Linked DNA regions of Homo sapiens: region 2 is linked to region 1. A link means that fine-mapping ties the variant in region 1 to the expression of a gene that starts in the linked region. Tissue or cell type: Th1 cells. Region 1 holds a variant in brackets; the other region holds the start of a gene. All regions are shown on one strand. Distances are from middle to middle.

Region 1 (8,000 bases):
AATCACTTCATACCAGGTTCTTCCCTTAACATATGGGGGTTAAAATTTGACATGAGATTTGGGTAGGGCCATAGCCAAACCACATCAGGAGGTTATTTTGGATTATGCAGGTGGGCACAATGTAACACAACATGCCAAGGACCCTTAGAAAGCAAGGGGAAGGCAGGAGAGGCAAAGTCAGAGAGAGAGAGAGAGATGTGAGGACAGAAGGAGAGGCTAGAGTGATGGGATTTCTAGCTTTGTGGATGGAGGAGGGGCCGGGAGCCAAGGAATGCAGCAGCTCCCAGAAGCTGGGAAAGGCAGGAAGCCAATTCTCCCCGCAGCCCCCAGAAGGAGTGCAGCTTTGCAAACAGCTTGATTTTAGTCCCATGACACTCACTTCAGAGTTCTCACCTTCAGAATTTATGGACTGAGTGTGTGTTGTTTAAGCCACTGCATTTGCAGTAATTTGCTACAGCAGCAAGAGGAAGCTGGAGAACACAGTTATCCAGGTGTTGTGACACCGAAAAACACCCCCTCACCTTTCCTAATGATGCCTGGGTGAGTGGCCATCCCCGTGAAGAGCCGTTCCGCTCAGTGTTGCAAAGGTAAAGGGTGAGGAAGGATCTGGGCAGCAGGGACAGAATGCCTTTGTTTGGCCATGCTGCTGTTAGAGTACCATAGGGATTTGATGGCCAGGGGACACCTCAGAAGCCTCAATAGGTACAGTATTGGGTTTTCAGGTAAACTAACACTAGAAGAGTTATTTATGCAATCAGCCAATCATTCAGTAACCATGTACCGAGTACCTTCACTGTGCTAATCAATGAAGAACAAAAAGAGAAATGACAGTCCCTATCCTAGAGACACCTCCAAGGGAGACATCCAAACAGATACTGATATGACAACATGACACTTTATATAAGGGTGACTACCAACATTGAGTGCTTGATGGGGGCCAGACACAGCACTCAGTACTTCACTCGCATCACCCCCAAGAACCTGAGAAAACAAATGGCACCCGAGTGGTAGATGTGGGAGCCGTGATGCAAAGCCAGGTGCATTCGTGCAAAGCTAAGATGCTGTAACAGAGACCTCAAATGTCATCACAGTAGCTAACAAATGGGGATGCCATATTCTAAGTGTTTTACATTTATTACTTCATTTGATTCTCACAACAAACCCAGGTGATACGTGGACTCAGTGTCCCCAGTGCAGTGAGGAGAATTCTGGGGCACACGGAAATGAAGTCATTTGCCCAAGGCCATACAGTTATTAAGTGGTAGGGCTAGGATTTGAACTCAAAAGGTGAGCCCCAAGTCCCTGATATACCCATTATGTCATACTATTGATACTATCTTCCTAACTGTCCTAAAACATTGCCTTGTTTTTCTCTCACTCAACTGTTCTGAGATAAGTAATCCATTTAGGTGGAGAATCTCTGCTCCACTGGGCATTCTAAGATCCATGTTCCTTCCAAACCATTGCTCCTCCATCCTCAGGGGCTCTACTGGCTGATACAGTTGCCGCTGGTGACATGTGACTATTTTAATTTTAATTAATTTAAATACATTTAAAGACAATTGAAATTTCAGTTCCTAGTTGCACTAGCCATAGCTCAAGTGTCTAGTGGCTCGCGTGTTGGACAGCACAGATCTCAAAACACTTCTATTATCTCAGAGTGTTCCACTGCTCTGGGGTACTGTCACCTGCCTGGTGGGACCAATCACCAGCACATCAGGGACAGCCTGAAGAAGATGCACCTGATGCCTCATGTTCCCACCCCGAGCAGATACCCATCATTCCTGCTCCCATCCCTTAGTGCAAAGGCCACAGCTCACTTCAGGGAAGCCTGGGTGTGTTAGTCTGTTCTCACACTGCTATAAGGACATACCTGAGACTGGGCAATTTATAAGGGAAAGAGGTTTAATTGACTCGCAGTTCCACAGGTCTGGGGAGGCCTTGGGAAACTTATAATCATGGCAGAAGGGGACACAAATACATCCTTCTTCACAAGACAGCAGGAGAGAGAAGAATGAGAATCGAGTGATGGGGGAAGCCCCTTATAAAACCATCAGATCTCATGAGAACTTACCATCATGAGAATAGCATGGGGAAAACTGCCCCCATGATTCAATTACCTCCCACCGAGTCCCTCTCATGACACGTGGGGATTATGGGAACTACAATCCAAGATGAGAATGGTGGGAAGACACAGCCAAACCATACCAACGGGAAACACAGACAGTGGGTAGCAATGGGTCTGGCTTCAATTCCATTTCTATGGCAGAAGGGCAGAGCAGGTTTCATTGGGATGCAGGCAGTAACCACTAAACGCATTCTGTCTAAAGGTGGAGACGGTTCTCAGCCTCTAGCAGATTCTCTACCTCTGAGGAGGGAACAGGGCCCAGATGTGTCAGAGCTGACCAGGAAGCTATTAATTCTGCCTGAGGCAGTAAGCAAAAGCTTCACCAACATGCTGACATTTATTTCAGATTTCCCCAAGTAAAGCAGAAGGTATGGAAGAAGACTTTAAAGCAGAGAAAAGAAACCAGCAAAGGCAAAGAGGCGGGATTGGTGAGGGTCCCATGAGGCTGTAGGGCACTGGTCAGTGGGAAGGTGGTATCAGATCAGGTGGTAAGGATTTAGAACTTGTTCTGAGGACCAGCGATTCTCAAAGGAGAAATGAGGGCTGCAGAGCAGCTTCCTGGAGGTCGACTCTTTTCACACTACTTGTCTCACCCCTCCGAGAATCCTTTCCCTCTGCCAGGGGCACATGCACCCACTCCTCTCCTCCTGCCTCACCCAGAGAATTGGGGTAATAGAGTGAGTACATGGTCATGGGGATGGGGCTATGCAGAGAGAGGATTTTAACATCCCTGGTGTAGACAGCGGGGTGATGTCAGGAGGTTTTAGGTTGAGGAATGACATCATCAAATACATTTTTGGAAGAAGGAGCCAGTATACAGCACAAAAAGGAAAGCTTGGCTTTGCACATTTTGGGTAGAAACTGATAGAAGGAAGCCACGTTTACCAAATGCCTTCTACATTCCAGGTGCCATGCGAGATGCTCCACACATCAATAGGCACATTTCTTCTATTTCCAGGAGGAGAAATCTGATGTAAGTGAATCCAGCAGGGATCTGTTCACTGGGTGCAGCGAAGTCAAAGACTGATGTTGGGATAGTAGCAAGAGAAAGTGAGGCGTTTATGTAGGGCCCCAAGCAAGGAAAATCAGGCATCCCATGTTCAAGACCCAACTCCCAGATGGCTCATAGGTGAGGGTTTTTACCAACGTGGAGGCAGAGGTTACAAGTAAAGTCATAAATTCAAATATGGAGACTATACGTTGGTTTGACCTAAAAACGTAGGACAACTGGAAGTTGGGGGCCCACAGGTTATAGGTGGATTTAAAGATTTCTGATCTGTGATTGGCTAAGGAGGCAAAGCTTTGTCTAAAAATGTGGGATCAGCAGAAAACAATGTTATTAGGTTGGTGCAAAATTGCACGTTTTGCCACTGAAAGTAACAGCAAAAAAAAAAAAAAAAAAAACCTGCAATTACTTTTGCACCAAACTGATAGCTCTAACTTGTGGGTGTGACGTTCCCAGGCCCCTTAGGAAGAAATTTAGAACAAAGAACAGTGACCAGAGTTTAGTTTTTAGTTTCCCTTAATTTGAGGTCTATGTGTTAGCAAATCTGTTTGGTGGGGGTTCAGGTTTTTGAAAAATAACTCAGGGACATATGTTAAGGTGTTATTTTCAGTTTTTATAGGGAATAACATATCTCTTGACTAACTTTTTTGGCTACTGTTTTAAGCTACTATTATCTTTTTGTTTATTCAGTTATTTTTCAGTGTGAGCTAGGTGCCTGGAATTTTTCCTGAAGGAACTTAAGAGTTTTCTTTATTTCTTCACTGGGCAGGGGGTGACCTGCAGGCCCCTAGGAGGAGTCCCTGCTCCATCTCACTGAAGACCAAGACAATTCTAGAAATGGGCCAAAGTCATATACCAAAGAAGTACTGGGGCTGCGTCCCTTCCTGGCCATACCTGAGCTCCACTTTAGACAGCCAGGGGGACATAAGAAATGCCATTTGGGGTCACTGAGGGCTCAGTGTGGTCATGAGCTCCTTGGTGGGAAAGTACAATGGCTCTAGTTTCTTTTTTTTTTTTTTTTTTTTTTTGAGACGGAGTCTCGCTCTGTCGCCCAGGCTGGAGTGCAGTGGCGGGATCTCGGCTCACTGCAAGCTCCGCCTCCCGGGTTCACGCCATTCTCCTGCCTCAGCCTCCCAAGTAGCTGGGACTACAGGCGCCCGCCACTACGCCCGGCTAATTTTTTGTATTTTTTTAGTAGAGACGGGGTTTCACCGTTTTTTAGCCGGGATGGTCTCGATCTCCTGACCTCGTGATCCGCCCGCCTCGGCCTCCCAAAGTGCTGGGATTACAGGCGTGAGCCACCGCGCCCGGCCCTCTAGTTTCCAACATTGTCATTTATGAATTAAGTAGAATGAATGCTGCATTTATTTATATTGTAAACAAAAATTTATATTGTAAAAACAACCCCCCCCCCAAAAAAACCCACCAAACACTCAACTTTTTAGCTTAATAAATTCAGCGAACTCTATTTCTTATTGCAGAAGCAAAAATTCTCTCATTTGTTTGCTGTGGTAAGAATATGATGCCTGAAGGATCAGATACTCAACTCTACACCCTTTCTTGGCAAAATATTTACCCAAGTTTCAATTTCTTCATGAGAAAATGGGGAGCAATCATACCCAGCCTAGGGAGGATTGTTTTTGATAATTATATTTAATATATGTAAAATACCTAGTACAATCCTTGACTTTGGATAGGTTGTCAATAAATGGCATCATCATCATCATCATCATCATCATCATCATCATCAT[T/CATCATT]ACTGTTGCTTATCCTAATGTGGCACCCACAAGAATGCATCTTTCAGATATCTGATGGTAAGGGCAGAATTAACCAAGGGCCCTAATGCTCTCCTTTGAAATCTATTGCACTTTTTGCCTCCATGGGCTGCTCAGCCAATGACTGAGTGAGTGATGCAGGAAGGCTAAGGTTTGTCCATTCCTGGGGACTCTGCTGGTGAGCGATTTTGGTTTGGGGGCTTCTCAGTGGTCTTACCAAACTCTCCTTAGGACTGTACCACAGTCTAAGATGCTTCTAGACTCCCTTTGTTTCCTCCCTCCCTCCCTCCTTCCTTCCCTCCCTCTCTCCCTCCCTTCTTTTGGGATCAGACCTGCATTTTGTTCTGATGGTTCTTCCAGCCATGCTGGTTCCCTTTTTCTGTCACATGTATTTCTTCTAAGAAAGTTCTTGTTTAATCCCATCCTGGGATCTGCTCCTCAGAGGACGTGGACTAACGAAACTACAGCCACCTTCTAGAAAGTGAAGGAGGTGAGCCCAGTTCTCTTGTCTTGCGTATTAATAGCCAGGTATTTGTTCAAAGTTGTGCAGATGTTGGTCCTGTCTCCTCTGAGCTTCCATCCTCCATAATGAAGAATTTTCATATATTCTTACTTAGTTTTCTGAAAAAGCGCTTTCTTTTTGCTTTTTTCAGATGCTTTCTGCTGTACAGTCTCCTGGTTATCTGTCTTTCTTGATCAGAACCGGAGCAGGTGTTCCAGGCCTGCGTGCACCACGATTTTCTGCAAGGTAAGACTTTGTTTTCTGGGTCATCCACAATGAGAAGAGCATATGTGAGAAGAGAAATTGAGCATAGCTCATTTCTCTTTGGAGTGTTTAAGACAAACTTAGACTTCAACTGAAAGTCATTAATTTTTACAAAACGCTATGAGATAACAGGGCTTACACCGTGTGCCGAAAGACCCAGGAGGGTGAAGTTGCTATGCAGCCTAGAAAAGTTTGTATTTCTATGCTTGTGTGTATAATCTGCTAAGGAGTTAGATGTCTTACCTTATCCCTATTTCTGTAATGCTGTCCTGCCCTCTCTTTTGAGCTTGTGACAATTTGTAAAAAAAAAAAAACAACAAAACAACAACAACAACAACAAAAAAACAAAGCTGATAGTGAAAGCCAACTGCATACTTCCATTTGCTGATTGGATCACATGCCAGTCTGTATTAGTGTAATCTCATCTTTTTGCTTTTAAAAATTTGATCACATACATCACACAGAATTCCAGGTAGAGCTGCACATTGCTGCAAATATTGCATAGAAAGGAAAACAGAAGAGAAGAGAAATCTTACGGCTTCTCAATGCTTGTTAGTGTAAAAAAAGATACAATTTCTATTTTTTTATTGCACAAGTCAGGCACTCTCATTGGTATGTGAATCTAATAGAATGAACGGGAAACCTAATTTATTTGAACATTCATGTGTCAATGTAGCTCTTGAGGGAAAATAATGTCAGCATTTTCTATCAGATGAAATTATTCTGTCTCCTAATTCTGTATTTAGGGATACTTTTTTGGCTTTCTTTTGACCACATATGGTTCAAATTATAGTAGCTTCCTTTAGGGTTATGAAGAATAAATGAGACAGTCTATAATCTATAAAATATGTTCCAAAATGGCAGATATTGTCATCAGTATGATCATGACCATCACCATCATCACCGTCATCATCATCACCATCATCATCAAACAACAGAGTTGCAAATCTTCCCTTCTGCTAGAACTACTAATGTGCTGAAAATCTTCAAAGTGAGAAGCAGAAACCAGCTGTTCCTTCCTCTGGGTAGGAGAGCTGCATTTTTTTTTTTTAAACTTAAGCTGAATCTGGCTCTTAGAATAAATTAGAATGAATGGCAAAACATGTTCCAAATGATACCACTAAGGGCTTTGGATGCTGATGGAGCGATAATAGTGTGAATGAAAAAAAAAAAAAGGTAAAGAAGAAGGGAAAAAACAGCCTCCAGATTTCAAGGTCACCAAGTATCAGAAGTAAGGAAATTTCCTAGGGGCAGCTCATGTCGACTTCGGAGGGAAAACAAGGCGACAAAACGTATAGTCAGCAATGCTCTGTAGGCTTTCTGCACACGGCTTCCTACCAGGCCGACCTTCTGACTTACTGGAATTTTCCAACCTAATTTCATTTACATTTGGGGACTGGAGTGTTGAAATGTTAAAACGTTTCTTATAAACAAGCCAACAGTATTATGTTGCTAAATAAAGGGAAAGCAGCCATTACTTAGCTGTTTGAGTAAAAGGAAGAATTTCAATGTAGGTTTTTTGTTTGTTTATCTTTTTGTTTATTTATTTTTTTTTTTGAGACGGAGTCTCGCTCTGTCTCCAGGCTGGAGTGCAGTGGCGCGATCTCGGCTCACTGCAACCTCCGCCTCTTGGGTTCAAGCGATTCTCCTGCTTCAGCCTCTTAAGTAGCTGGAATTACAGGCACCTGCCACCACACCCAGCTAATTTTTGCATTTTTAGTAGAGACGGGGGTTTCACCATGTTGGCCAGGATGGTCTTGATCTCTTGACCTCGTGATCTGCCTACCTCGGACTCCCAAAATGCTGGGATTACAGGCGTGAGCCACCGTGCCCGGTCTCAATGTAGGTTTAAGTGGGCTTGGGATGCTTTTTGTTTCAGCAGGGAACAATCTTCACTGGAGTAGTCATTGTGGACAACTGGGAGATGAGTGCTTTAGAAACTGTAGCTGATGGTTAATCACAGGGACTAACACCATCATTATGCTCGTTATGGCCTGGTCCTGAATTAAACATCCCGCGATCACAATACAGACAACGAGTGCTGCTGGTCTTGAGCAGAGAAGGAGGGGTGTTACAGTTGAGTTATATCCCCTCAAAAAAGATATGTTGGAGTCCTGACCTCCAGCGCCTCCAAACGCAACCTGATTTGGAGATGGCATCTTCACAGAGGTAATTCAGTGAAAAACTCCAGTCATCAGGGTGGGCTCTAATCCAACCCGACTGGCGTCCTCATGAAAAGGGGAAATTTTGGCCACAGAGACACACACAGGGACAACACCGCGTGAAGCTGGAGGTGGAGAGGAGGGATGCTTCTGCCAGCCAAGGAACAGC
Region 2 (8,000 bases), 51 kb after region 1:
ATGCCTATTTTTTGGTAGAAAAAGCTAAGTTACAAAATAAGATAAATTAAAAATACACGGCCAGGTGCAGTGGCTCACGCCTGTAATCTCAGCACTTTGGGAGGCAGAGGTGAATGGACAACGAGGTCAGGAGTTCGAGACCAGCCTGGCCAACATGATGAAACCCGTCTCTACTAAAAATACAAAAATTAGTTGGGCTTGGTGGTGGGTGCCTGTAATCCCAGCTACTTAAGTGGCTGAGGAAGGGGAATTGCTTGAACCTCAGGAGTGGAGGTTGCAGTGAGTCAAGACTGTGCCACTGCACTCCAGCTGGGGTGAAAGAGTGAGACTCCATCTGAAAAAACAAAACAAAACAAACAAACAAAAAACCCCCAACATTATGATATAGCTATTCATTGGGCAGCCATTAAAATTCTAGTTATGAAGATTATATCATTACATGGGAAATATGGTAGATGGTGAATGAAAATGATATAAAAGTATTAATATGATATAACATTATTAATAACCAAATATCCAGTTAGGGTTTTCAAACAAAATCTGTTCCTTTTCTTGGTTAAAGTGGCATTATCTTGATGAAAAAGAAAAAAAAATCTTCTGCTTTTTTGGCAAAGTTTCCCTTGGCTGTCTTTAGAGTGTGCCATCCATGTGGATGTCATTTCTCCTGATGATCCGGGTATGATGATGGGGGCTCTCTTCCCTACTTGGAGCTCCTAGGCTCACTCCCCCACTGACCTCACTCAGCTGAGTTGTTAATGGGTTTCATCCTGGCATAATCCCATTTCTATTTTTAAGCTCTTTAGACCCTCTTGGGTAAAACTAGTTTTAACTCCAAATGCACTTTCTTTTTGAATAAATGTGAATTAAGCAATTTCAGGGAACAAAATGTTTGACAATGAACAGGTTGAGTGTAAAGGATATGAATGTTTATTTGGGATATTAAATTCCAAATACAAATAATTGTATTATTCTCCAAATGCAAGGAGTATGAAAGTTGTGTCTTGTATCTTATCCTTCATAGCATGGGAGGTGTTGCTATTTGCTAAGTGTATTCTAAAATGAAATCTTAATTTCCCCCTTCCCACCCCACTTGCTGCAACTCAAATTAGCAAGTTGCACCATCATCCTCACTGTTGCTTAGGCCAAAAATCTACGTGTTCTTGTGGTAGTTAGCTTCTGCCGCAGTAACAGGTAGTCCAGACATCTCTGTAGCTTGCAACTGCAAATGTTTGTTTCTCACTCTGGGGTCTGAGGCTGGCTGCAGCTTCTAAGCTGCTCCTCTTGGCTGGACTCCTTTGGGCCACCCTTCTTCTCACCCAGGACCCAGGCTGGCAGAGAAGTTACACCCTGGGGCATGCTTTCCTCAGGGTGCAAGGTAGAAGTCAGGAAGGACAGCAGAAGCAAATGATGCCTTTTAAAGCCTCTGCTTGTATCTGGCACACTGTCACTTTATGTGCATCCCATTGCTTGGAACAAATCATGTGGTCAAGTCCAAAGTGAAGGTGCAAGGACATGCACTGTCCCCTCATATAAACCTTCACATTATTCTGCAAGTTACTTATGGCTGAGCAACTCCCACGTGCACATGTAAATAAACCTTGCCTTTTCTCCTGTTAATCTATCTTCAGTTAATTTGCAGGCCCCCAAGCATGGGACCCAAGTGGTAGAGGTGAAATTTTTTCTCCTAACAATAGCATATTTTGGCCTAGTGATTCATGATAACTGTAAGTTATTAACAATACAGTAGAATCATTCCAAGTTATACTTAACATTTAAAACTTTCATCAATGATTATGAATGATGACTCATCCCAGGGACACAATGCTTAACACCACCTGGCTTGAATACTGACTGATCCACTTACTAGCAGCTTAACAATACAATTTTATTTTTAAAAATTTATTCATTTATTTATTTTTTTTAGACAGGGTCTTGCTCTGTTGCGCAGGCTGGAGTGTAGTAGTGATATCTTGGCTTATTACAGCCTCTACTTCCTGGGCTCAAGCAATCCTCCCACCTCAGCCCCTTGAGTAGCCGGGACCACAGGCATACGCCACCACACACGTCTGATTTTTGTACTTTTTGTAGAGACAAGGGTTTCACTGTGTTGCACAGGCTGGTTTCAGACCCCTGAACTCAAGTAATCCACCTGCCTTGGCCTCCCAAAGTGCTGGGATTACAGGCATGAACCACCACACCGGCTCACAATTTTATTGTTTTACAGTCCTGAGGTTGGAAGCCCGGCACTGTCCCCCTGGGTTAAAGTGGAGGTGTCGATAGGGCGGGTCCCTTCTGTAGCTCCAGGGGAATATCTGGTCCTTGCCTTTCCCAGCTTCTAGAGGCTCCTGCTTTCCTCGGCTAGTGGCTTGTGGACCCTTCTGTCTTCAGAGCTGGCAGTGTGCGTTTCTCTGTGCCTTTCTCCATAGTCATATCTTCCTCTGACCCTGACCCTCTTTTCACTTTTGAGGAGTTTTGTGATTACACTGAGGACATGAAGACCATCCAGGACAAGTGCCCTCTTTCAAGGCCTGCTGATTCCATCTGCAACCTCAGTGTCGCCTTGCCACGTTACCTAACATAGGCACAGGTCTGGAGATCAGGACTTGGATGTTTTTAGTTTTTTTTTGGAAGTACTGTTCTGCCTTCCACACTCTCTGCAGCTTTTCTGGTGGATGCTGCATCAGAGGTAAGGAGATGCCGCCTGCACCACCCTCCACTGCCCACCCACACACCAAGCTGTAAGGTTGGGTTAAGTTTCTGATGCAACTAGGCAATGTGACCCCACGAAAGGGGCAGAGGGGCACCTGTCACACATGGGCACAGGCTGTGGGGCCAGCTGGCTGGGCTCACATCCTGGCTGCACCTCTCATGAGCTCTGTAAGCTCCCTGGGCCTCCCTTTCCTCACCTGTGAAATTGTCACAGCATGCGCACCTGCCCTCTGTGCCATGTGGGACTTGGGGGAACATCTCTAAAGCCCTTTGCCAAAGGCCAGTCAGGTAGCAAATGCTGTGTGAGGGTTTGGGACATAAACACACACTGGCAGCATGCCTGAGCGAAGCTTCCGTGGCCTTCTGAGTGTCTGGCCAGGTCATTCTGGGAGCTGTCAAATACACCTGGCTGTCTTCCTTTTCTGGTCACATGGTTCTGGACCCTTTGTCCTTTGTTGGGGCCATTGGCTTGTTCTGGAAGCTGTGCTGAGAGCACAAGTGATGTCGAACACCCCAGGTCAGAGTGTTACCATGCCAGAAGGCCCCAAACACAGATGCTCACCCCAAACACATTTTGCTGTTGGCTTCCTGGCCTAGATTCCAGCCAGGGATCCTCCTAAGGAACCTCTCTGGTCTCCTCCCGAGCTTGCAAAGAGAGGTCTGAAGAAAGCTTGCGATTGCTGAGCATGGGGGCTGGAGCACTCAGCGCCTGTCGCTCACATCTTATTTGAATTTCAGAAAAACAGGAAAAGTAAATGCATGAGATTTTTCTATTCAATTTCAAAGCCTTTTCCCAAAAGTGACTTTTGATAACTGTCATTAAAAGGAAATAGACACAGTATAAAAAAAAGCAAAAATCTTATAATGTAAAAATTACTTGATTTCCTCTGCTTTGCCACTGGTTTAATAAAAAAAAAAAAGCTCCTTTTCTACTTAAAGCTGGCATGATCATTGAATTCATAGACTTATGTCGCTGCTGGTCTTAGTGCTTAATATATACAGTGACTCATTCTACTTAATGGCATCAACAACAGATGCAGAGAAAATGCTTCACAAGCCCAAAGATTGCAGTTGGAAAACCCCGTGCAGTGGGAACAATTCTTTACTAGCCCTAATTGAGGGCAGCTACTCTTTGTGCTTGCCTGTGACAGTTTTTTTTTTCTCTCTCTTTTCCCTCCTCTCCTTACGTGTCCACCCAGATTCTGCAACCCATAGATGGTGGTCTGTGCAGACCAGCAGCCAGAGTCTGCCTTTGGCCTCTGATGCTGTTGTCCTCAACATATTTTCTCCTTCTGCACCCCTGCCCACAACTCCTCTGTGCTCCCCCTCCTCAGGGCTACTTCCTACCTGAGGGAAGATCAACCAGAGGGGGCTGGTGATCAGGACCCAGGGCAAGGGCTCCAGGGAGAGTGAGCTCACATTTGCTGGGAACCTGGGAGCACACGGTGCTGGGGAACCTGCCATCCCCCAACTCAAGTGTGAACGCAGAGCTGGATTTCAGCATCACTCAGGCCCTTTGTAATATTTATTTTGTGCATTTCTTTTTTTTTTTTTTTTGAGATGGAGTCTCACTCTGTTGCCCAGGCTGGAGTTCAATGGCATGATCTCCGCTCACTGCAACCTCCGCCTCCCTGGTTCAAGTGATTCTCCTTGCCTCAGCCTCCTGAGTAGCTGGGATTACAGGCGTGCACCACCATGCCTGGCTTATTTTTGTATTTTTAGTAGAGACGGGGTTTCACCATATTGGCCAGGCTGGTCTCGAATTCCTGACATCAAGTGATCCACCTGCCTCGGCTTCCCATAGTGTTGGGATTACAGGCAGGAGCCACTGTGCCCAGCCTATTATGTGCATTTTAAGACAATATTTTATAAAAGGATTAGGAACTTTTTCAGGCGGTTGAAGAGAGCTCTATTAGAACAAAAAAGGTTGAGAATTCCTGGTGGAGATAAAGTGCAGGGAGAGAGAAAAGTTAGAGGACACGCTCCCTGTCCTAGGACTTTGGGGTGGCAGGGCCCTGAGGCTCTGAGAGCAGCCCAGACTTTGCCCTTATTCTCTGTGTTTCAGGGCCTCGCTACCTTTCCAAGGCAACATCGTTCTTGGAGCACCTGCTGAGGTGCTCTCTGCTGGGGGCCGTAAGTGAGCATCGAAAAAGCTGTAAAAAGTATCCCTGCTGCTCTCCAGGGACTCACAGCATGGACGGCACCTGCATTGAGAGAAGACGGCAATGGTATCGTGATGGTGAGTCTGTTGCCGCTGTATAGAGAAATGGGGAGGGAGAACTCAATTGCAACTTGGGAAGAAGATCATCTGGGAGGAGGTGGAGCCTTTCTGTCTTGAAGGTTGGGTCTACCTCCAGGTGTGAAGGAAGGACATTTCATATACAGGGGAAAGAGGTTTAAAGTATGGAGCTGGTGTGTGTGTGTGTGTGTGTGTGTATGTATGTGTATTTGCACCTGGAAGCATGAGTGTGTGTGCACGTGTGTGCTGGCATCTGGGTCTGTGGTCACAGATGTTTGCACATGTGTGCATGTACCTCTTTGTGTGTGCATGTACCTCTTTGTGTGTGCATGTGTGTGTGGCTTATTTGTGAAACAAAACCAAAAGCCAGATGAGGAAACTTTATGGGAAGCGAAGTCTGAAGACAGATGGGGCCCAGGCTGCAGACATCTGGAGGGCCAGGCTGTGAGGGCAGGGCTTTGGCTGTGTGCGGGGCAGTGGGAAGCCTAGTGGGGTAGGAAGGGCCACTTTGAGATGGTGCAGTGGTGACAGGAGAACACGATGACTGAGGCCAAGAGCTCAGTTAATATTTCAAGTGGGATGTTGTGAGGCCTGAAATAAGGCTGACATGGAGTGGGTGGGGAGGAGGGATCTGCATCATGGGACCCCCTACTCTGGAAGTTGCTTGGCAGCTGCCCATCAATCATTGAATAGACATCTGTTGAGTTTCCTGCTTCCTGCCCTGCACTGTGCTAAGTAACAGAGGTACAGAGCATCTCAGTCACCTCCATGGTACTCAGACCCCCTCCCAATGCGGTCACACATTGCTAACAACAGTGCTGCCAAAGGAACAGCTGAGCACTATGTGTGCGGGTGGTGCTAACTCTTGCATGTGGGCTGTGCCAGGTGTGTGCCCAGCGCTTCCTCAGGAGGCATTAAGGAGCAAGCTTCCAGATACCCGCTTCTCAGCCCAGCTCTGGCTGTTGAGCTGCTTCCCCCTGTGGGATGCTGCAGCTTCCTAACTGCTGCAGTTTTCAAAGTGTGCAAATCTGATCTAGAGAAGTAAGGCCACTAGCTCCAGATGGGCCCACAGCTGTTGGGTTCAAAGGGCTTCAACGAGCCACGATTATTATCTGTGGTCTTGATAATAAGATCATTATCTTATTCTGTGTTCCTGTAATAACGACGTGTTTGTAAATGTTGACCCTGCAAGGTGACAGGTAGATAAAAATGCCTATGGTTCTGATAAATAGTCATTGGATATTTATGTCATCCAAGGGTGGTGGCTTTGGAGTGTGGAAGGTAATAATAAGACAATAATCTCGTGATAATAGTCTGAGATGAATTATATCTTTAATTATGCTTAAAATAACTTTTAAAGAATAAGTAAGTGAATAAATAAGCAATGTGACAAATAAACAACTGGTGTCAACAACTCTAGAAGTTTGGGGAAAATAAGTTTCTAAAATTCCTTGACCCTCCTTCCATCAAGAGATGGGGTCTCTGTCCCCCTTTGAATCTGGGCTCCATATTTCTTGGCCAATACCTCTTTCCCCTGTATATGAAATGTCCTTCCTTCACACCTGGAGGTAGACCCAACCTTCAAGACAGAAAGGCTTCACCTCCTCCCAGATGATATCCTTAGAGAATGGAACTTCGTGTCTGATGACTGAAGTGAGCTTAGGCCTCCCTGGCCAGCTACCAGGGCCTTCCTATGTGCTGGCACTGGGAGGTCTGTGTCCTGAGCTCGCCTGGCCCTCAGGCTGGGCACACACCGCACACCAGTGAGCAGCAGCCATGTGGTGCTGGCAGCTTGGTGGGCACAGCAGGCATGGCCACGAATCTAATGCCTGACAATGACAGGTGTTGGAGCATGTGTCTTAAGCAAGCTGGACAAGGTGTGCATCAGCCAGCAGAAGGGAGACAAGGATGAGCCTGCTGCCCATCTACACTCAGCTCCTGTCTTTGTCTTCCTCAGCCAGTGGTGAGGTGATCTATAGTGGTTCTGGGACAGTGTATTATGGCAGAATCAGGTCCTGGGAGGTGAGCGTGGCTTCCTGCCATGAGCTACCACAGCTCAGATGCCTAAATATTTAGTGCACATTCTGTTCATCTTCCTATAGACTGGGCATTCAGAGCACAAAATGCTGTTGCAATTCTTCCTCCCATAGGAGGGCATCTTGAATGTGCCAGGGCTGGTTTCCAGCCTCTCCCATCCTGCTAATGGGTGCACGCTTTCCATGAATTGCTGTGTGATGTTCACACGGAGGTACGGTGTCAAGGGGGTTTGTCCAATCTGTAAAGGGAGTGGGTAGGTTGAATGCAGCATTCTCCAAAGGGTAACCTCATGAATTCCAGGGCCTGGATGGAAATGGCAGCTACCAGGTGGAAAGGCCGTGTGGACTGACTGGTTTGGAAAACCCTGAGCTTAATGCAGGACTGAACTCTAGTGTCTCAGATGCTACAGAAATTCAAGACAAGATCAAGTTCTTAGCTTCTCTTTGGCTTCTCTGTGGTTCTCCTAGTTGCTGTTGGGGGCTCCTGCTCCTTTCTTTCCACCCCATGCAGGTATGGGCGCTGCTTCTCTTCTGCTGAGGGATTCTCCTACACTAGGAAAGGTTCCTCCATCTGCCCCTTCATCAAAAATATTCTTCCTTCTATCTCATTGCCTTAGAGTCTGCCTCTATCAACCAATTACTCCTGAGACTATGAGCTGTCACTCACCATTGTGAAGAGGGGGCTTCAGTATCTCCATGCCTGTTCCTTTCTTTCTCAAGTCCTCCCATGTATGCTACTGAAAATCTGCATCCTGAAGATTCACTTTTTTCTTAGAAGTCTGGTCTCTAGAGTAGGAGCTGGCCACTTTTCCTGGAAGGGGCCAGAGAGTAAATATTTGCCAGCCATGCGGTCCTGTTGCAGCTACTCAGCTCTGCTATTGAAATGTGAAAGCAGCCACAGAAGATGGGTCAGTGAGTGGAAGTGGCCACATTTGGCCCATGGGGAATGGTTTGCCCACCCCTGACCTAGATAGAATGTATCACGGGTCCCCTTGGAGCACTTGTCATTTGCCAAA

The links. PIP is the estimated chance that this variant, and not a neighbour inherited with it, causes the effect.
Region 2: LINC02145 starts here. The variant in region 1 is fine-mapped to the expression of LINC02145 in Th1 cells (Schmiedel 2018, PIP 0.95).

What each region holds. Positions count from the first base shown.
Region 1 is chr5:6,385,045-6,393,044 of GRCh38, reverse strand. No RefSeq gene overlaps it. Among named protein-coding and RNA genes, the nearest start is that of MED10, 10 kb to the right of the region's middle. The variant T/CATCATT (reference allele first, on the strand shown) is at 4,886.
Region 2 is chr5:6,334,098-6,342,097 of GRCh38, reverse strand. It overlaps LINC02145 (long intergenic non-protein coding RNA 2145), which reads left to right and starts at 4,806. Exons shown (of 2, transcript NR_028351.1): 1 at 4,806-4,948.